Linked DNA regions of Homo sapiens. The protein of the gene in region 3 interacts with the protein of the main gene of each other region in a pairwise test. Each region holds a gene or a part of one and is shown on either strand. Other genes may lie near its edges. The genes, in order: STOM, GOLM1 and TMEM98.

Region 1 (7,144 bases), on a different chromosome or scaffold from region 3:
TATCTGGAGACAGGAGAACTCAAGGAACCAAAAGCACTGTTACTCTAAGTCTCAGAAAAGGTTTTCAGTCAGGATATGGAGGCTCCTGGTCCTCAAGGGTGAACCACTTCACACAACAGATAAAACCATCATTTTAAAATTCAAAATGTAAGTGCAACTTGAGTTTAAGTTGCACTGCTCCATACCTCTAATAAACTCAGCTAGGAGCCAGGATACATGGTAGTTCAAGGCTTCCTAAAATAAGCTTGAAATTGGGGTACAGGGGAAGGGACATCCATTGGCTGGATGGACAGAGTGGTTGAGCTAAAGAGAGCTATAAAGGCTCGTGCTGGGAAAGAAAGCTGTTATGCTTAGACTTCTCTAGGTGAACTCAGAGTCTCAAAGAGGAAATGTTACAAATGTCACCCGCCAGCTTTCTGGCCAGTAAGCAGAATGCCAGGTTGCTCAGATTCACAGACATTTGCAAAACAGAAGATGTCTCCTAATATTATAGACTAAGAATTTGTTGTCCAGAGGAGCTGACCAGTTCCTCTTTCAGCATCAATATACATGATAGAAGAATGACTAGGTAAATTTAAAAAGACCTACATCTATATAGATATTGTAAGTTTGACAGTATCTGCCCAAGATCATTAGACACTATATAGTCAATATACTGTGAATTCCTTATACTATGTAATGAATGGGTTTGTAATCAACATATTTCACAGTGTACCACAGTTAACAGCATGCAGATAGTAAAATATAATGGTTTCCTGAAGTTATCTCTTAAAAAAGTATTTTAGTCCTTCAGCTATTCAAATAGATATATAACAATTGCATATAGAACGTAGAGAAAATTTTATTAAAAAATTAAAACTATTTAAAACCTGATATATGAAAATAGGCAACAGTGAGAAAAAAGCACTTTTGTGACAAATATTTAGCTGGTTTGAAAGACAGAACAAGGAGGAATCATTTACTCATAAAGAAGGCTCAAATAAGTTAAAACATGGATGTATTTTTAAAATGACCACTCTAGTAGTGAATTTAAAAGTCTTTTAAGGGTTAGAGTAATCTTTTTCATTAGTCTTGGCTATTTCCTCTAGTTCTGACAAGTACAGGCAAGAAAATGGCTACTCTCAAGTAAGGATTATTCTGAAACACGGTCTGGATTTAGAAAATAAATGAACATTAGGGAAATTTCCTTAATTAAGACTCTCCAAACCAGGTGTGGTAGCTCATGCCTGTAATCCCAGCACTTTGGGAGGCAGAGGTGGGTGGATCACCTGAGGTTAGGAGTTCGTGACTAGCCTGGCCAACATGGTGAAACCCCGTCTCTACTAAAAAACAATAATAATAATACAAAAATTAGCTGGGCATGGTGGCATGAGCCTGTAATCCCAGCTACTGGGGAGGCTGAGGCAGGAGAATCTCTTGAACCCAGGAGGCGGAGGTTGCAGTGAGCCGAGATCATGCTATTGCACTCCAGCCTGGGCAACAAGAGTGAAACTCCATCTCAGAAAAAAAAAAAAAAAGACTCTCTGGAGGTAAGGCACATATGACCTGGAGAAGCTGGTTGTGGTGTAAGGTCATCACTTTCTGCAAAGCATTTAGCCAGTCAGCGGTGTCAGGTGGCAGTTACAGCCCAGGTTCTTGCCTCTGGCCTGGGTGCTTAGGGGGTTCAGAATGAGTCAGTGGAAGTCAAAACAAGAGGGATCTAACCTACTACATAATAATCTAAAAATACAAACTTTTAACTATTTTAAGACTAACAGATTACCTTATATAAATCACCAATCTCTCAGTATTTACAAGCTAACAATTCTTTCACCTATTTTTATAACTGCTATACATTCTGGGAACACCACAATTGACATATGGAAAAAGAAAAGCCCTACCCTCTCTTTATGAGTTAAAGGCTAATTTGGTCCCCGACTTCATGCTTGGAAGGCTAGCGCTCATCTCTACACTAGCCTAGATGGCTGTGTTTTGCCCCTATGATTCCTTGCAGCATATCTATGGGCAGAGGGAAGACAATTGTTGAGTTTTTCTCAGCAGCAATGGTGGTCAGTGTCTGCAGGTATCGGAGCTGAAGGGCTGCAGGAGATTCAGTGATGACCATGGAGGCTTCTTTCAGAGCCCTGGATGCATTCATTTCTCCTTCGGCTGCAATAACCTATGGACAGGTGAAAGGAGGGGTTGAACTGGAGAAAACCTCATGGGGACACACAGCACTCTTCAACCGGGGGTATGTATACCTCAGGTGGTCCACAAAACTTTCTAGGGCGTATGCCAGAGTAGTTTTAAGAAAATCAATTTCTACATACTCAGTTTCCATATGCTTCTTTTTCTGAAACTGACTTGCCTGACTAGTGCCTGGATCAAGACATTCTCTTTTACTATAGCCTTTCTCCCATTTTCCAGGGTAACAAACAAAGGGATAATTCAAAATACTGTGCAGGATTGAGAAAGCAAGTAACTTTAATGACTGCAGGCAAATCCTTTTGCAAGTCAGCAGCATTTCCAATTCTCTGATGAGTACCTTACTAAACTGAAAGCTGACAGGTCATTATAAATATTTTTTGATGAAAGACTGTGATATGATTTTTTTAGCACATAAATTCAAAGTGCTAAGAACTGTATGATACTACTTTAAACAGAACTTCCATTTCCATCTACTTATTTATGTAAATAAGGTTTCAAAGTCCTTATAGCTATAAAAATGAAAAATAGGAATAAAATTGATGCTGAATCGTGTCTCATTCTAGCATTAAACAACAGCCATCTATACATGTACGATTTAATTCTCATTCATCTTATAAAGACAAGCATTTCTAGTAAAAATTGACTTCTGGTACTGGGTGCAGTGGCTCACACCTGTAATCCCAAAACTTTGGGAGGCCAAGGCGGGCAGATCACTTGAGGTCAGGAGTTCGAGACCAGCCTGGCCAACATGGCAAAACCCTATCTCTACTAAAAGTACAAAAATTAGCTGGGCGTTGTGGCAAGCACCTGTAAACCCAGCTACTTGGGAGGCTGAGACAGGAGAATTGCTCGAACCCGGGAGGTTGCAGTGAGCCGAGATCATGCCACTGCTGCACTCCAGCTTGGCTGACAGAATGAGAATCTGTCTCAAAAAAAAAAAAAAAAATTGACTTCTTATTTAGGAGAAATTCTGAAATGTTTGTAGAACCTTGTTTTTAGTTACAGGAAATTTTTAAAAATTAATTCTAACTTATGGACTAAATATGTTGCAGTATGTTAATAAAATAATTCATGACAAAATGTATGTTAGGAAAAGAATCTGGCGGAAGTGAAGATGCAATAAAAAACTTAGGTTTAAGAAGAAGAAGAAAAAAACAATAAAAAGCTCCTGACTGTTAAGAGTTTACTTACATATTTTTAATGGATAACTAAATCATTATTATTTCTCATTGGGTACATTTAAAAGAATGATGTTAACAGTTTTATTTAAAAATGTCAATATTTACAACATGCCAGGAATTATATTCTTGGCAAGTACATAAATTCAAGATGAAAAATTTTTACATGCCGATTTAAAATGTTTGATGGACTTTATAGTTTTTCTAAATTCTGTAAGGGGTTTCACAGGCAAAAAAGTTTGAAGATCACTCGAGTAGTAGACAGAACAGGAGTTCTGGAGTCAAATGGACTTGAGTTCAAATCCCAAATCTAACATTTACCAGCCGAATGTCCTCAGAGAGGTTACTGAACATCCTGAACCTCAGTTTCCCATTCTTAAAGCAGACTAACATGTACTTCAGAGGACCACTTGTGAGGAAGACAGAGAAAGTATATAAAGTGTTAAATGAATAAAGGGGGCTATTATAGAGGAATGGCAAGTGACAAGACCTGATTTTTGGGTCCAACTATGCTTTAATGCACAAAAGATTCAAGGTAGTTACTTTAATTCATAATCCTAGAAGAAGGAAAGGTATTAAGACACCATAATTATCAAGATTAAAAGTACAATTTCTCCAGGTTATTATCCTCACTTGAATCTTGAATAATTAATGGTCCATAATACTCCATGAATATCAGAATTGGAGGTGATGGTCTTATGCCCAGTGAGATTTCATTCACTCACACAGCAAAATTTGGGGGCCTTCTAGGGTTAATAAGCCCTGTGTAGGAAAAGCTAAGGATAGAGTGGAATCCCTAGCCTTCTTCAGCTCCTGGTCAGGTAGGGAAGGCAGACATGGAAGTAGATCATTTCATTCTAGTGTGATAAATGCTGACAGACATATGTACAAGGCACAGTGCAAGCAAACAGAAGAAAGCAACTTTTCCAGAGGGTGACGTGGTGAGGTTATAGAAGTTGAATATTAAATGATAAAATGTTTGCTGTTTAGAAAAAGATGAGGAAGAATATTTTGGGCAGAACACATGAAACGGTACTGAGGTATAAAAATGGTATATTCCAGAAAACTGTCAATGGCTGAATACTATGGCAGGAAGAGGGGAAAGGTGGGGGATGAATGGGGCCGGGTTCTGAAGGGCAGTGAGGGCCAGGGTGTTTGGTCTTCATTCTGTAGGCAATGGGAAGCTGCAGAATGATTTTAAGCAGGTAAGTAAACTCCATCAGATCTAGTTTGAAAAAGCTCTCTGACAGATGTCTGAGGTTAGAAGAGAAGGCAGTGAAAGCTGCTAGTGGAACTGCTTTAGAGTGGCCGGTGCGATTCATAGGTGGTGGGGACAGAGAATGAAATGGTTTGGGGAGCTATTCTCCCTCCCCGAAGGAGGGCGAATCAGTGGAATTTGGAGACTAGGTAGGAGGAGGAAAGGGGGACACAGGCTGAGACCCAGGTTTCCAGGTTTTGGTTGCATAGATTAGTGCCATTAATGGAGATAGGATACAGAATATAGTACTCACTGAGAGAAAGGATCCAGCTTATAGGATAAAAACCTTAATTTATCAAAGCCACACATCATGTCCTGCCTAGGTCTGTGAGAAGGGACAAGTGCCAGCTTTGCTCAAAGAAAACCACAGAACTGTATTCCAAGGTAGGCACTACAGAGAATACATCAGAAATCCCCTGCTATGAGAGCAGCAGGCTCTCATTTTTTCCATATCATCTCAGATGTCCAATTAGGCACTTTTTTCTTTGGACATGGACCAACTGAAAAGATATCTCATTTCCCACCACCAATCAATACACAATCGCTTGGCTGAGAAGCCAGACCCACCGGGCTGGGCACACATTTTGTTCATAGAAAAGCCACACTGAGCAAGCTGCCAAAGATGTAAACAACACCACCGGCTTTGTCTAAATACAGGCCAAGTACACTCCGTTGATAGGATCTTAGAGAGCAAAGCAAGCTATTTGTGGGTGTGCACGGCTTTTGTCGAATGTGCAGTAATCTCATAGCAATCAACATTTCATATTTATAGAACATCATTTTAAAGTCTGGCATTTTCATGTATGTGAAATTGGTGCTACCTGTCCCTTCTGCAGACCAGGTGGTCTGGGCAGAGGAAAAGGCAGAGAAAGGTGATCTGTATTTCTGCACTCCATCCTCTCAATTAATAGACTTCTACACCCAGAAACATGAGCCCAAAAGCATGTGCCAGGTGTTTTTCTGAGAGTTATGAAAAGGAAATAAAAGCTGATGCAAACACAAAAGATATTACATTTCAGGCCACTAAGAGCTGGTCTAAACACTTTAAAAACCAAACCTAACATACAGAGAAACACGTAGGAGAATCTGTCCTCTTCTGTGACCGGCTTCTTTCACTCAAATTATGTGTGTGAGCACTTACATTCATTCTCTTTGCTATGTAGTATGCCTACATGTGAATAAACCAGACTTCATTCATTCAGCTAGGAATGGACATTTGGGTATTCTACAGTTTGGGTCAATGTGCTGCTGTGAACATTCTAGTACATGCCTTTTGGTAAACATATGAGTGCATTTCTGTTAGATTCATACTTAGGAGTTGGAGCTGCTGGCTCATAGGGTATACAAATGTTCAGTATGAATAGACATTGCCAGACTGTTTTCCACAGTGGTTGTATTAAGTTACACTGCCACCAGCAGAATATGAGAGTTCTAGTTCCTCTCTCACCCACACTTGGTTCTTTTCCGTTCTTTTCAGGCCATTCTGATAGCTGTCTAGTGTGACATCCGCTTATAATGTGAATTTGCATTTCCCCGATGGCTAATTAGCCTAAGGAATTTTTCTATAAAGTCTCTTAATCTTTAGATTATTCCACTCTATCTCACCTTTCCTGTGCAATTTATTTGTTGAAGAAACTGTGACCCCCCTATTTTCCATGAGAATTTCAATACAATAAGCCTATGGTTGTTGCAGGGTTACTGTATTTTACAGAAGGGCTAGGCTCATTGTGATTCTATGTGTGAACTCCAAGACAGTCACTGCCCAGGTTCATGAGACTGCTTCTAGACTAACCCTACAGCCCCGTCCAAGTGGGAGCATGGCAATTCAGAATTCTAAGCGGTTTCTTCTATCTTTTCTTACTGTTATAAAGGGAAGATAGAAATTTTCTTTCCAAACTCTTAAGAATGCTATGGAAGAGGCTCATAGCCCATCCTGGGAAGTCAGTACTAGAGGAGGCAATGAGGAGCAGAGGGGAATTCTAATTTCCACTGCTACTAATCAACTGTGCGACCTTGCGGACGTCACTTAACTTTTCAGAGCTTCAATTTTTCCTTTGAATAGTGGGATGGCAAACAAGTTTCATTTTTTTTTAAGTTTTTATTATTATTAATTTTTTATTTAATTTAATTTTTTTGAGAAGAAGTCTTGCTCTGTCGCCTGGGCTGAAGTGCAGTGGCGCAATCTCAGCTCACTGCAACCTCCACCTCCAGGGTTCAAGCAATTCTCCTTCTCAGCCTCCCCAGTAGCTGGGATTACAGGCGCCTACCACCACACCAGGCTACTCTTTGTATTTTTAGTAAGGACGGGGTTTCACCATGGTGGCCAGGCTGGTCTTGAACTCCTCACCTCAGGTGATCCACCCACCTCAGCCTCCCAAAGTGCTGGGATTACAGACGTGAGCCACTGTGCTTGGCCTCAAGTTTTGTTTTTTAGAGCTAACTCTAAGCAGTTGAGGGTTGTTACCCAGAGTGCTATAGAAGGGTTCTGAGGCCAAGTCTAAGCTCAGAGGAAAACAGTGCT
Region 2 (7,045 bases), on a different chromosome or scaffold from region 3:
CTCTCTGGAAATGGTAGGGACGCAAGGGCTGGCTTCCAGGACAAGCACATGCATTATGTGTACTCCACTTGGACTCGGAATCTACAGACAGCATGGCCCTAAATACAAGGGTGCATTCTAGGCAGAACATGGAGAAACTAACAACCCAAATCTCAATTTTTTAAAGAGATAATCAACTCAAGATAAAAGAAAGGTGCCACTGTTTTAGGAAGGAACGGATATCTACAGCTAATGACAGCATCTCCTTAGAATGGAGAGAGGAAATGGAGCTGCCACTGTGAGACACGTGAGAAGGTGTCCCTCATACTTAGAGCATGAGAGCACCCATTACTCTATTCTTCCCTGGAGTGGGCAGCAGCCAGAGAAGATGAGGACAAAAGGCTTTCAAGAGACCTACTCAAAGGGTTTAACTTACATATTTTATATGTGTATGCAGGCTGGTAAACAAAATCTTTTTTTTTTTTTTTTTGAGATGGAGTCTCACTCTGTCGCCCAGGCTGGAGTGCGGTGGCGTAATCTCGGCTCACTGCAACCTCCGCCTCCGGGGTTCAAGCGATTCTCCTGCCTCAGCCTCCCGAGTGGCTGGGATTACAGGCACGTGCTGCCATGCCCAGCTAATTTTTGTATTTTTAGAAGAGATGGGGTTTCACCATATTGGCCAGGATGGTCTTGAACTCCTGACCTCATGATCCGCCCACCTCGGCCTCTCAAAGTGCTGGGATTACAGGCATGAGCCACTGCGCCCGGCCAAACAAAATCTTTTTTAAAAGTGCACACCTGGAAAAGCAGCTCTAGTCTCTTTCTCTGGCTCACTGCCTGGGGTGGAAACTGCACAGGCCTATGTGTCCACCGCGTTTCTTCAAATGAGGTCACCACACCTGCATCTAGAAGCAGGTGCATCCTGCAGGCACTGTGGCATCTCAGGCCCACCTTTGTTACGCTTTGTGACCAGCCGCTGAGGGGTCTGACACTGGAGCGCCACAGGCTGAGCGAGCCAGTGAGATCTCCCCGCCTCACACACCACAAGCATCTTCTTGCTGGGTGAGCACGGAACACAAGGACAGAGCAGGGATACTTAGGGGGAGGCTGACAAAATCCAATTCTTTAACTGGAACTTGGAAGGACACGTTCTTCAGTAAGACACTGAAGTGAAAATTAGATTTAAATGGAATCAAGGTAACTTCTGCAAATAAGTGTATTCTCCAACTTCTGTGACTTGGTCCACCCCAGAGCGCAGGTGTCATGTCCTCAGAAGTGTTCCTGGCTCAGGTGGGAAGGACATTTTCCATATCTGAAGGGACTGAAATACATCCTGGAATAGTCGGTTGATCTCCAATTCCTACCCTTTATTTCTTTAAAAAGAAAAGAGTCAACCAAACCAAAAAGGAGTGATTCACATGTCATTTTTTCTCAATGTTCACATATGCATTAACCTTCATCTACCCAATATTCCTTCCTTCCTTCCTTCATTCATTCACTAGGCACTGATTGTCTAAATGGCACCAGACACTGCACGACGGTGGACATACAAAAATGGGGCATGTGGCCTGCCTGCCAGGAGGGGGCGTCCACTTGATGCTAAGCACCCATCTGCAGGCCATCCACTTGCAAGGTCCCCTCGACTCCCTGCCAATATTGCATCTAAAACCTCGAGTTCTAGAGCATATGCTGCTCTTCCTTCCTGCCTCCCTCTTGATAACGAATAAGAAACCTTCAAACGAAAAGGAATTGGCAAATTGTGGACTGCTGTTTGGTAAAATTCAGGGTGATATGTTGGTGCTGGGAAGGACATGGAGGTGGGCTGGGTGTCTGGTGGAAGGGAGTCCACAGCGGCCCCCGAAACTTCACACCCACCTTCCCCGGCAGCTTCCTGCTCCTCCTCCTGTCCGTCGGGGATGACAAGCTGGTCTCGCTCAGGGCCCTCCATCTCTGGATTTTCCTGGCTCACTGACAGGGCAGCCTGCACCTGTGGGGTCTGGCCCAGTTCTCCGGCTCCCCCGAAGCCTCTTCCACCTACAGGTCTGTCTTCCACCACCTGCTCCCGGCCTGGCTCCTGCGGCAGCCTGTCCCTCTGAGGCTCCTCATTCACCACCTGGATCTCATTGGTTTCCTCTGTGCACAGAACACAGTTAGCTGTGACCTTGCCAGCATTTGATTTAAAAAAAAAAAAAAAAAAAAAAGCAAAACCTGGTGCCACTCAATTCCCAGAGCCTTCCCAAGGAGTGGGGGTGGGGTGGGCTGCACACAGGAGAACAACCAGGTAGCTCCTTTTGTGACCTCAGCCACAGACTGCAGGCCTTTCTGTGCCTGCAGCTCATCGTCAGAACCGCGACAAAGGGAAAAGTAGCTTACCAAAAAAAAAAACAAAACAAAAAAAAAAAAACACCTGGACTAAATTACCTTGACAAGGTACAAAGGGAAAAGGGTATCCTGCTGAGTGACCTGATCATCGGGTCCGCTGGAGCAAGCACTTGGGAGCCAGGGCAGGCAGGCCCACCCAGGGCTTGCTCACAGACACAGCAGCCTCCTGGTTCCCAGTGTCTGGGGCTCAGCCGCCTCCCCCGAGTCCCACAAGCCCACCAATGTCCTGCATAAAGGTGCAGCCTGGGCCTTTCTCTACACAGCTGCCCAGGAACAAGGCACTTCGTTTACAAGGAGGAGACATCTGTCAGAGAAGCCCCAAAGCCCCAATTCCAGGGGCCCAGAGAGACACGTCCCTGCTCCTGGCTGCGCCGCTGCCGGGTTCACTGACTGCCTCAGCAGCTCGCTGGGACTGCTTCCTCTGATGGGGCTCTGGAGAGCTGGGAACAGGGCAACTGCTGGGCTCTGCTTACCTTTCTCAACTTGTCTCTTTGAATCCAAAACCACTTCGGAACTGGGGGCTGGTGTCTGGGACTTGCTGTTACCAAGCACGTTTCCCTTCCCTTGTGGCACCTCTGTGTGTGGCAGGCCTGCTGCCTGCAGCCTGGGCTGAGGCTCACTGAGGGCTTGGAGCTGAAACAGAAGCACAGGACAGCCAGCCAGGGCAGGGCTCTGTGAACAGAAGCCGTAAAAGAATCCTACCAATGCAATGAATCCCACCAATCCCACCACCATATCCTTCCAACCAAGACCCCGAGAAACGCCACAGTCTACTCTGGTCACGCCCTGGTCATGTGGCGTAAATCAGAAGACAAGAGGTTGAGTCAAGGTCTCCCAGAAAGTACTGTCAATACAGAATAAAACTGGGCAGTGATTCTGCTGAGAGGAAGCATTTACGGAATAATAAAATACCTAGGCGGAAGATCAACAACAAAAAAGACATGAACGACACAATACTCCTTGACGAAACAAACATCTGCAGAACCCTCAGCCTAGCAAGGGCAAACACACCTGCTTCTCAGGCACACACACAATATTTTCCAGGATGGACAAATGGCAGGCCACAAAGCAAGCCTCCATACACTTAAATATTTAACTAAAATCACACAAAGTAAATTAATAGAAATGGAATGGATTATAAATCAATAACAGGATGAAACTTATGACATTTGCAAATATTTGGAAATTAAACAACACACTCCTAAATAACCAGTGAGTCCAACAATAAACCACAACACAAATTAGAAAATGCTTGGACAGCCAGGCGCGGTGGCGCACACCTGTAATCCCAGCACTTTGGGAGGCCGAGGCAGGCAGATCACCAGAGGTCAGAAGTTTGAGACCAGCCTTGCCAACATGGTGAAACCCCATCTCTACTAAAAATACAAAAATTAGCCAGGTGTGGTGGCAGGCACCTGTGATTCCAGCTACTTGGGAGGTGAGGCAAGGAGGTGATTTCCAGCTGAGGCAGGAAAATCGCTTGAACCTGGGAGGTGGAGGTTGCAGTGAGCCAAGATCATGCCATTGCATTCCAGCCTGGGGCGACAGAGCGAGACTGTCTCTCAAAAAAAAAAAAAAAAAAAAGAAAATGCTTTGCCACAAAACAAAAACACAGCATACCAAAACTTATGGGAAGCAGCTCCAGCAGTGCTTAGAAGAAATGTACACCTTCAAGCATCTGTATTAGAAGACTTCCAGTTTTCTGTTCCTCACGTGAGAAGCTTAAAAGTCACCACTTAGTCCTAACAAGTAAAAAACTAAACAGACTGAAAAGTTATCAGCTCTTCTTGGATCCATAGGAGAGGTGAGGACAGAGTGTAAATCACTGTCCTTAAGCCTGGAGACAGACAGCCCAATACAGAGAGTCCCGGCTCACCAGGACAGGCTTGGGCAGACATCACCACGGGAACTGGTGTCAGGGTGGGAGAGCCTGACCCTGTCATTTATGAACTGTTTGAGGCTCAGTGTGGATGAGTCTGAGAGTTAAAAACCTGCCCCAGCCAGGCGTGGTGGCTAATGCCTGTAATGCCAGTACTTTGGGAGGCTGAGACGGGCTGATCACCTGAGGTCGGGAGTTCAAGACCAGCTTGACCAACATGGAGAAACCCCGATATACTAAAAAATACAAAATTAGCCAGGTGTGGTAGCGCATGCCTGTAATCCCAGCTACTCGGGAGGCTGAGGCAGGAGAATTGCTTCAACCCGGGAGGCAGAGGTTGTGGTGAGCCAAGATTGCGCCATTGCACTCCAGCCTGGGCGATAAAAGCAAAACTCCAACACCAAAAGAAAAAAAAAAAAAAGAAAAAGAAAAAACCTGCCCCAGTCATAAGGGACTCCCATACTTATGAGTTTTACCCCTAGGAGCTCAACCAGGCTCTCAGTGAATATTAGAGAAAGGCTCTCAGTGAACATCAGAGAAAAATCGGCTTGTGCTTCCAGCAGTGTGGCGGGGAAAGGAACCATTCTGAAACAGGCCAGAGTGCTCTATTCTCCTTAACCAGGCCGGCCCTCACGAGGAGCGCATTACCCAGAGCTCCTGCGGGCATATTATCTGAGCCTAACTGACCTGGGGGAATGAAACACCCAACTCCAGTAAGCTCTAGACTTCCACGTGGGAGAAGGAAGCTACTCAACTCCAGCCCATTCCAGCCACTTTGTCCCACTGGGGTAGGGAGTGGGTACTGAAGAGAAGCATAGGGGACATTCACAGCCAAGGGACTCAGGCTCACTAAAACACTCAGGCTCACTAAAAACCCTCATACTTACAGCACACTGATTTCTGACAAAGGTGCCAAGACAATTCAGTGGGGGAAAAGCAGTCTTTCTTTCAACAAGTGATTACTGAGACAACTTGATAACCGCACACACACAAGAATGAAGTGGGAGCTCTACCTCACACCATATGCAATAATTAAATTAACTGAAAATGAATCACAGGCTTAAACGTAAGAACTAAGAACGATAAAACTCTGAGAAGAAAATGTAACAGTAAATCTTCAAGATCTTGGGTCAGGCAAAGTGTTACTAGATATAATACCAAGAACACACAACAAAAGAAAAAATAAATAAAATGGGGATTTTGTCAAAATTAAGAACTTCTGTGCTTCAACTAAACACCAGCAAGAAAGTGAAAAACCCCACAGAATTGGGAAAAAAAACTTGCAAATCATATATCCATTATCATATATCTTTAATAAAATAGATTTTAAAAACTCTTACAATTCAATAATAAAAATAACTCAATTAAAAAATGAGCAAAGGACCCAAATAGACATTTCTTCAAAGAAGATATACAAATGGCCAATGAAACATGTGAAAAGATGCTGAATATCATCAGGGATATCACAGTTATTAGGGAAATGCAAACCCAAACAACGAGCTGCCACTCCACACCTGCTAGGAAGGGTATCATGAAAAAGGTAGTATCAAGAGTTGGCAAGGATGTGAAGAAACTGGAGCCCTCATAAACTACTGGTGGCAGTCGAAAATGGTATGGCCACTTTGGAAGAAGTCTGGGAGTTCCTCAATAGGTTAAATATAGATTACCATATAACCCAGCAGTTCCACTCCTAGGTATTAACCAAGAGAAATGAAAACATATGACCACACAAAAGCTTCATGTTCATACGGCATTATTCATAATAGCCAAAACATGGAAACACTCCAAATGCCCATCAACTGATGATGAATAATCCACATGTGGTCTATCCACAGGATGGATTAATCAGCCATTAAAGGGAATGCAGTACAGACACATGCTGCAACCCCGATGAGCCCTGAGGTATTCATACTCAGTCAAAGATACCAGACAGTCCGGGCGTGGTGGCTCACGCCTGTAATCCCAGCACTTTGGGAGGCCGAGGTGGGTGGATCACTTGAGGTCAGCCGTTCAAGACCAGCCTGGCCAACATGATGAAACCCCGTCTCTACTAAAAATACAAAAATTAGCCAGGTGTGGTGGTGGGTGCCTGTAATCCCAGCTACTCGGGAGGCTGAGGCAGGAGAATCGCTTGAACCTGGGAGGCAGAGGCTGCAGTGAGCTGAGATCGCGCCACTGCACTCTGGCCTGGGTGAGAGAGCGAGATGCCCTCTCAAAAAAAAAAAAAAAAAGTCAGACACAAAAGGCCACACATATATGATTCTATTGACAGGAAATTGTCCAGATTAGGCAAATCAAGAGACACAAAGTACATTAGCAGTTGGCTGTCTAGGGCTGTGGGGACTGAAGAGAGAACTAAGGGATACACGGTTTCTTTTGTGCCAATAAAAATGTTCTGAAATTGACTGTGGTGATGGCTGCATAACTTTGTGAATATACTCAGAACCCATGAATTGTAAATTTTCTATGGGTGAATCATAGGGAATGCAAATTATATCTTAATAAAGCTGCTATATTTTTAAAAAACTACTCAAAGATCACCCAGAAGGCTTCAAGCAGCAGCTTCGTGGGCTGTGCTCTGCACAGGAGGTGGAATGACAGCACGAGACATGGAGTCGGCCAGACCTGAGGTCTTGATGGGCTCTACCACTGACCAGGTGGTGTGACACTGGCCACAGAACTTAACCCCTCCCATGGGGCTGGGGTCCTCAAGTCAGGAAAACAGCAACTCTCTCCCAGGCTGGCTGCGAGCTTTAAATACGATAATTCCCGTAAAGCCCTGAGCTTGTGAAGCGGGGCTGGAGG
Region 3 (6,807 bases):
GCACGGGTCCTAAGATGAGGGTGTGGCATTGTCCAGAGAGTGGACCTGTTCTGGTGCTCACAGGCCCATCCTAAAGAGTACCTTGGACTACTTCTAGAATGCTCCGTGCCATAATTCAGCCAGGGTCCTGCTTTGTCCTTTTGCCCTCACACTTCTTTCTCCTTCTGGCCATGTTTTGTCCCCATTGTTTTTCCTGCTCCATTTATCCCACACAGTGTGTTGATGGCCTGTGAGTCTCGAGGAGGTGGCTTCAGCTCCAGGGCACTAGAGAAAGGAGCTGGCTGAGATAGGCGCGGAGGGTGACTGTGTCTCTGCATGTCCTCACCGGCTCCACAGCCGTGAATAAGAGTGTTTGAGGCCATCTTTTTTTCAAGTGCTTTTAGAAATCAAACAATACATCTTTATTTTTTCTTCCTATCGAGTGTTCATGAGCAAAGATTTGGAGCAAAACCTTGTGCCACGCAAATCAGAATGAATTGTAGTTCTGAACTTGATTTAAAAAAATTAACCACAGGGTAGAAGAAATCCAGTAGAGCAGTGTGAAGCCAAATGAAACTCATGGCCTTCTTTTTCGGTGTCTTACATACCTTTAGCTTTGTATTTTTTTTTCCTGAATACAAGAGTAATTAATGCTTATAAAAATGTGAAATACTGCAGACATACATGACCTGGAAAGTCTACTCCCTCCCAATTGTAGGAAAAAACCACTATTAAGTGGTGAGTGTTCCTCCAGATCCTTCCCAACCCCACATTTCAGAGCTTTTGTTTATCTATTTTTATGCAAATGACAGATTGAGCTTTACATATTATTTGGCAATTTGCCTTTTTAATATAGTAGTAATCTTGAACATCATTCCATATGTATGACTGTATTTTAAAAAACCATTGGAACTGAAACAAAACTAGAAAACAAAGTAGTCTCTGCAAAGACTGAACCTGAAGTCTTTGTGCCTAAGTGTCTGTCTGAGAATGCAGAAGCAATTGGAGAAAGAACCATTAAAGACCAGGTCTGGAATACCAAAAAAGAAGAACTGGAATAAAGATAGAAAGGAAGGAAGGGGCCAGGCGTGTGGCTCACGTGCCTGTAATCCCAGCACTATGGAAGGCTGAGGTGGGTGGATCACCTGAGGTCAGGAGTTCAAGGCTAGCCTGGCCAACATGGTGAAACCCCGTCTCTACTAAAAATACAAAAATTAGCTGGGCATGGTGGCGCGTGCCTGTAATCCCAGCTACTTGGGAAGCTGAGGCAGGAGAATCACTTGAGCCTGGGAGGTGGATGTTGCAGTGAGCTGAGATAGCACCACTGCACTCCAGCCTGGGTGACAGAGCGAGACTCTGTCTCAGGAAAAAAAAAAAAAGGAGAAAAGGAGATCAGGAAAGTGAAGTACTGAACACCTTTTGCCTCCGGTCAGGGTGGATGATGTTGTGAAGTCGATGTACCCTCCGTTGGACCCCAAACTCCTGGACGCACGGTGAGACCAGGGGTGGGTGCATGTTCGGTTTTTCATGCAGAGGTCCACAACCGTTTTATCAGATCTGTGAGGCTGGCTGACTGGCTTGTGTAGGGAGGGTGGCTTTGCAGCCTCCTTAGGCTGCCCGGGCCATGCGTGCCATTTACTTCAGTGAGCGGCGCCTGACTGGGTGATAGAGGCCAGTCCTCTCCTGAAACCCAGGAGAAGAAAGAGGCAGTCTTAGATTTTAAATTGTTATGATTAGACTTCCGGCCATGTTACATCCTAACTGTGCCTTCCCTTCTACCTTTTCCCCTTTCCCCCTCTGATTTTTGTACCCCAGAAGCAGACATGCCTTAGCTGTGAGTGCCACCCAGTTGGGCGGTGGGGCAGTGGTTCCCAGAGCAGTGAGAATGGAGGTGACAGGTCAGCCACAGCTGTGCTCACCTGCCACCAGACATGCGCATACACAGAGTGTACTTAGCCCTATGAAATTGTTATGTTCCTATACCAGATGCAACCCATTTAAGAAATATAGATTCTTTCGTGCCTTGGATTTATATGACTGTGTCATACACATGTAACAGTTGCCAGATCGGCAGTGGGTCACAGCGCTTCAGCTTTGGTTTCTCTGCCCCACTCCTACTGCTGCCGAGCTTTGTCCGTGGGTTAATAATCTGTAATGTATTCTCAAATGCATCATGGTACTAACCATATAAAAGGTATTCTACAGTGAATCTTTCAGCACTGAAAAATCTACTCCTCACTTTGGTTTTCAGTTACATTTTTTTTTTTGAGTTGGATAAACCAGCCCTGGGCCTTACCAATTTGTAATCAATAAGGAATGTTTAAGTGAGGGTGTGTCTGTCCTATGTTTCAGTGGGCAGCGGTTGGGGAATATGCTCATCTGATTGACTATATCTGAACTGTTTCACAAAGCGCTCTTTGGGGAGATGTTAATAGGTGTGCTGCAGAAAATGGCTTCCACAGTCTTAAATAAGCTTGTGAGAGACAGCCTGTTATATTCTCCTTGGAGCTTTACCAGGTACATCTCAGAAGGCTCTGAGGCAGGCTTCAGTTAACCATGTTTAACCCAGCCATCTCCAAATTTATTTGAGCATGGAGCCAACTTTAAATTGCATACCTACCAACATCCTAGGGAAGGGTGTGCAGTTTGGGGAATACTAGTCAAAAAGTCTATCTATTTGGGCTTTTGTGCAAAGTCCCTCATTTCCTAGGAAACCTGACCCTATTTTCTTTTTTTCCCTAGGACGACTGCCCTGCTCCTGTCTGTCAGTCACCTGGTGCTGGTGACAAGGAATGCCTGCCATCTGACGGGAGGCCTGGACTGGATTGACCAGTCTCTGTCGGCTGCTGAGGAGCATTTGGAAGTCCTTCGAGAAGCAGCCCTAGCTTCTGAGCCAGATAAAGGCCTCCCAGGCCCTGAAGGCTTCCTGCAGGAGCAGTCTGCAATTTAGTGCCTACAGGCCAGCAGCTAGCCATGAAGGCCCCTGCCGCCATCCCTGGATGGCTCAGCTTAGCCTTCTACTTTTTCCTATAGAGTTAGTTGTTCTCCACGGCTGGAGAGTTCAGCTGTGTGTGCATAGTAAAGCAGGAGATCCCCGTCAGTTTATGCCTCTTTTGCAGTTGCAAACTGTGGCTGGTGAGTGGCAGTCTAATACTACAGTTAGGGGAGATGCCATTCACTCTCTGCAAGAGGAGTATTGAAAACTGGTGGACTGTCAGCTTTATTTAGCTCACCTAGTGTTTTCAAGAAAATTGAGCCACCGTCTAAGAAATCAAGAGGTTTCACATTAAAATTAGAATTTCTGGCCTCTCTCGATCGGTCAGAATGTGTGGCAATTCTGATCTGCATTTTCAGAAGAGGACAATCAATTGAAACTAAGTAGGGGTTTCTTCTTTTGGCAAGACTTGTACTCTCTCACCTGGCCTGTTTCATTTATTTGTATTATCTGCCTGGTCCCTGAGGCGTCTGGGTCTCTCCTCTCCCTTGCAGGTTTGGGTTTGAAGCTGAGGAACTACAAAGTTGATGATTTCTTTTTTATCTTTATGCCTGCAATTTTACCTAGCTACCACTAGGTGGATAGTAAATTTATACTTATGTTTCCCTCAAGTGTGTAGTTATTGAGTCAAATTCATATGCATGGTGTATTGTGGGACATACTTAGATGGAAGGAGAGAGCCTAAGAATCCTGAGGATGATTTCTGTGTATGCCTCAAAATGAGATATTTAGGCTGGGCGCGGTGGCTCACACCTGTAATCCTCGCACTTTGGGAGGCTAAGGTGGGTGGATTGCTTGAGCCCAGGAGTTTGAGACCAGCCTGGGCAACATGGTGAAACCTCATCTCTACACAAACTACAAAAATTAGCTGGGCATGGTGACACGTGCGGCTGCTTGGTAGGCTGAGGTGGGAGGATCGCTTGAGCCCAGGAGGTGAAGGTTGCAGTGAGCCCTGATTGTGCCACTGCATTCCAGCCTGGGCGACAGAGTGAGACCATGTCTCCAAAACATACATATATATAAAATATATTTAAAGACCTCTTGGAGTTCAGGCAGAAGTGAAGATAGCACTATGAAGTAGTTTCCACATTAACAATAGCAATGACTTGAACGATGTGTTCCCCCTTTCTTCTGATATTAATATCTGTTCATTTTGCAAACATTGAAAGATTATGAAAGCTATGACCCAGAATCACAATTATATAATTTGGATACATACCCAAATGGCATAATTTCTGTCATAAGCCTGTAGGAAAAGCTTGAATTCTTCACTTCTCAGATTCTCAGAGCCAGCTTGCTCTTGGGAGAGGGGCCTGGTATAGGGGCTGCCCAGGTTCGTAGCCTATGCTGTCAAGCATGTTTGGAGTTGCACATCTGTTCCCATGTCATTTTCTCTGTCTAACTGAAGTCAGAAAATTCCTCAGCTGGATTCTGGGGAACCAGGAACCCATATTCCCAAATCCAAGATTGGGACCTGGTTTGTCTTTCCATTTGGGCACATTTCATTCTTTCCAGGAAAACAGGCCACTTCCAACCTGCACAATGTACACCAAACCACAGAACCACAGCTGGGATATGGAGTCAGGAGAGGGAAGCTGGAGCTCAACTCTCATGGACTAAAGGATGGATTCTGGATGGGCTCCAGGGGACACCTTATTGGATTGGTGGCTTCCATCAACTCTTAAAAACGTTAAGTGGTGAACTTTCCCGTCCTGTCAAGCTGTGAATGGGGAATGTATACAAAGTCACTTTGACTTTTCTATTTGAGGCCTCCACAGTAAACATCCAGAGTCATCCTATTTTTGTCTTTTTACCTCCCTTTCAGAACCTGTTTTCGTAATTAGACTGGAAAGCAATTCATGCTAAGTTTGCAATGGCTGCCACAGTTGTAAGTGTCCCCTGCATTTTAACCTGCACTAGAGCCCTAAGCCACAGAGAAGCAGTTCTGAATTGGTATCTCAAATACCATCCACCTGGTGTGGGTCTGCAGGGTGGAGAGCTTTCCCAGCACCCCTGAAGCAATGCCCAATGTCGATTACCTTCTCTGAGTCCTGGCAAGTCCTGGCACATTGGCTTTCTGGATCCCTTAGATGCTGCCCTTTCTGTTGTGAGGAGAGGTTGCCGAAGATATTGGAGGTGTCTGCTGGACTGTAGGATTTCTGATCCCACTGCTGTGTAGTTTTTTTTTCTAGTGCTGGACAAGTAAGAAGCCTCTGGATAAATTTGGTGTTGGTGGCTGATGGTTGAAGTGGAAGCAGTCTTTGGGGTAGGAGGCAATGCCACTCCTCTAGGCCCTTCGGGAGTTGGCTGAAGTTACTTCCTCCCTTGGAAGGGGCTGGTTAGTGAGTGCCAGGGATCTCAGGACTGTCTCTGTGCCAGGTGTGGTTTCCCAGGCAACAGACACATTCCTAAGTGCCTAGTTCTCTAGCGTCTGTATACATGGTAGTAGAGCCTTCCTTCCATGTCTCTCTTCCCTCTGGCCTGGAATAGGAGCATTAGACTCAAATTCTGATGAAAAAGAAATTACTTGGAGATAGAGATTCAATGTGAAGAGAACAAGATATTTGAAGTCAGAATTAGGTTTGAATTTGGGCTCAGTGACTTACAGTGTGAGCTTGGTCAAGTTCTTAACATTCTGGTCCTTAGCATTCTCATCTGTATGGTCAAGGCTATTGTCATTGGGTTGGTATGTCAACAAGCAAAACGGTATGTGTGAGCTGCCCAATTGTGGGCCTGGTTCTGATTAGCCAATGTTAACACCCTTCTCTCCACAGCTTCCCATTCTCTGATGCCGCTGACCCAGATGGCGTCACCTCAGTTACCATGGCTTGGTCCAAGCAGTGACTTCTGTTCATGGGCTCTGGAATTGAGTGGCCAAAAATCTGGAATCCCTACAGTAGGGAGAGTAGCCTTGTCCCTGCCCCACTACAAGTCTGTTCATATGAAGACATACAAAGCCGTCGCCTCTAATCAGTGTTCAAAGGGTCGATTGTGCAACTCACATTCCTCCAGAGAAATTCCCCCAGCTTGTGAGATCTCCAAGAGGGAACACGTATTCCTGGCATCCAACTTCCCCTGGTGCTCCCCCTGACCTGCCTCATTCCAGGAGTTCCCTCTCCAGAGACCCTGTGTGCCCACACGAGCAGACTTTTAGAAAATGGCCTACAGTTCAAAGGCCCTGCATTGCTTTATGGCCTTGGAAATGTGGGGAAAGTGTCAGATGAAGAATTTCTATCCTCCTCACCTCCTCCCTGTCTCCAATAAATGCATACCAAGAGCTTTCTGTGGAAGAGGGTTCGTGCTAGATGCTGGAGCTATGAAACAAAAGGCACAATCCCTGCCCTTAAGGAGCGATAGAGAAATGAGCAACTGCTGGAGCCATGACTGTAGCCAGTGCTGTGATGGAGGGGACCACAAGAGGGACTGTGGGCACACAGAGAAGGGACAGGGCAGGGGTGGGGTTGAAATAGGGCAGAGCTGCTGCCTGAATGGAGACTTGACAAAGAAGGAGTCAGGCATCAGAACAGAAAATGGTCCCAGCTACTCAGGTGGCAGGGGCAGGAGGATCGCTTGAGCCTGGGTTGGGTGGAGGCTGCAGTGAATCTTGATAGAGCCACTGCACTCTAGCTTGGGCAACAGAGCAAGACCCTGTCTCAAAACACACACATGTACACACACACAGAAAGTGCCGGGGGAAATAATATGGTTGTGCTGTGTTTGTTCTGGTGGGTCTTACTGTGTTTCTATGAGAAAGGCTGATGAGCAATTTTCAGAATTTGAGGCAAAACTGGTTCTTCCTGTTTCATCCTATTTGTATTTTTATTATCCCAATT

What was found.
Region 1: the proteins of TMEM98 (region 3) and STOM interact in binary tests that used the Homo sapiens proteins (3 or more experiments, as listed by UniProt).
Region 2: the proteins of TMEM98 (region 3) and GOLM1 interact in binary tests that used the Homo sapiens proteins (3 or more experiments, as listed by UniProt).

The regions. Positions count from the first base shown.
Region 1 is NC_000009.12:121,339,251-121,346,394, forward strand, and holds part of STOM (stomatin), read right to left. Parts: intron 2,159-7,144; coding exon 1,952-2,158; 3' UTR 392-1,951; coding exon of another isoform or gene 371-391; 3' UTR 1-370. UniProt on the Homo sapiens protein: Regulates ion channel activity and transmembrane ion transport. Regulates ASIC2 and ASIC3 channel activity.
Region 2 is NC_000009.12:86,033,514-86,040,558, forward strand, and holds part of GOLM1 (Golgi membrane protein 1), read right to left. Parts: intron 2,995-7,045; coding exon 2,835-2,994; intron 2,113-2,834; coding exon 1,855-2,112; intron 1-1,854.
Region 3 is NC_000017.11:32,938,065-32,944,871, forward strand, and holds the end of TMEM98 (transmembrane protein 98), read left to right. Parts: intron 1-1,412; coding exon 1,413-1,472; intron 1,473-2,721; coding exon 2,722-2,929; 3' UTR 2,930-6,251; downstream 6,252-6,807. UniProt on the Homo sapiens protein: Functions as a negative regulator of MYRF in oligodendrocyte differentiation and myelination. Interacts with the C-terminal of MYRF inhibiting MYRF self-cleavage and N-fragment nuclear translocation.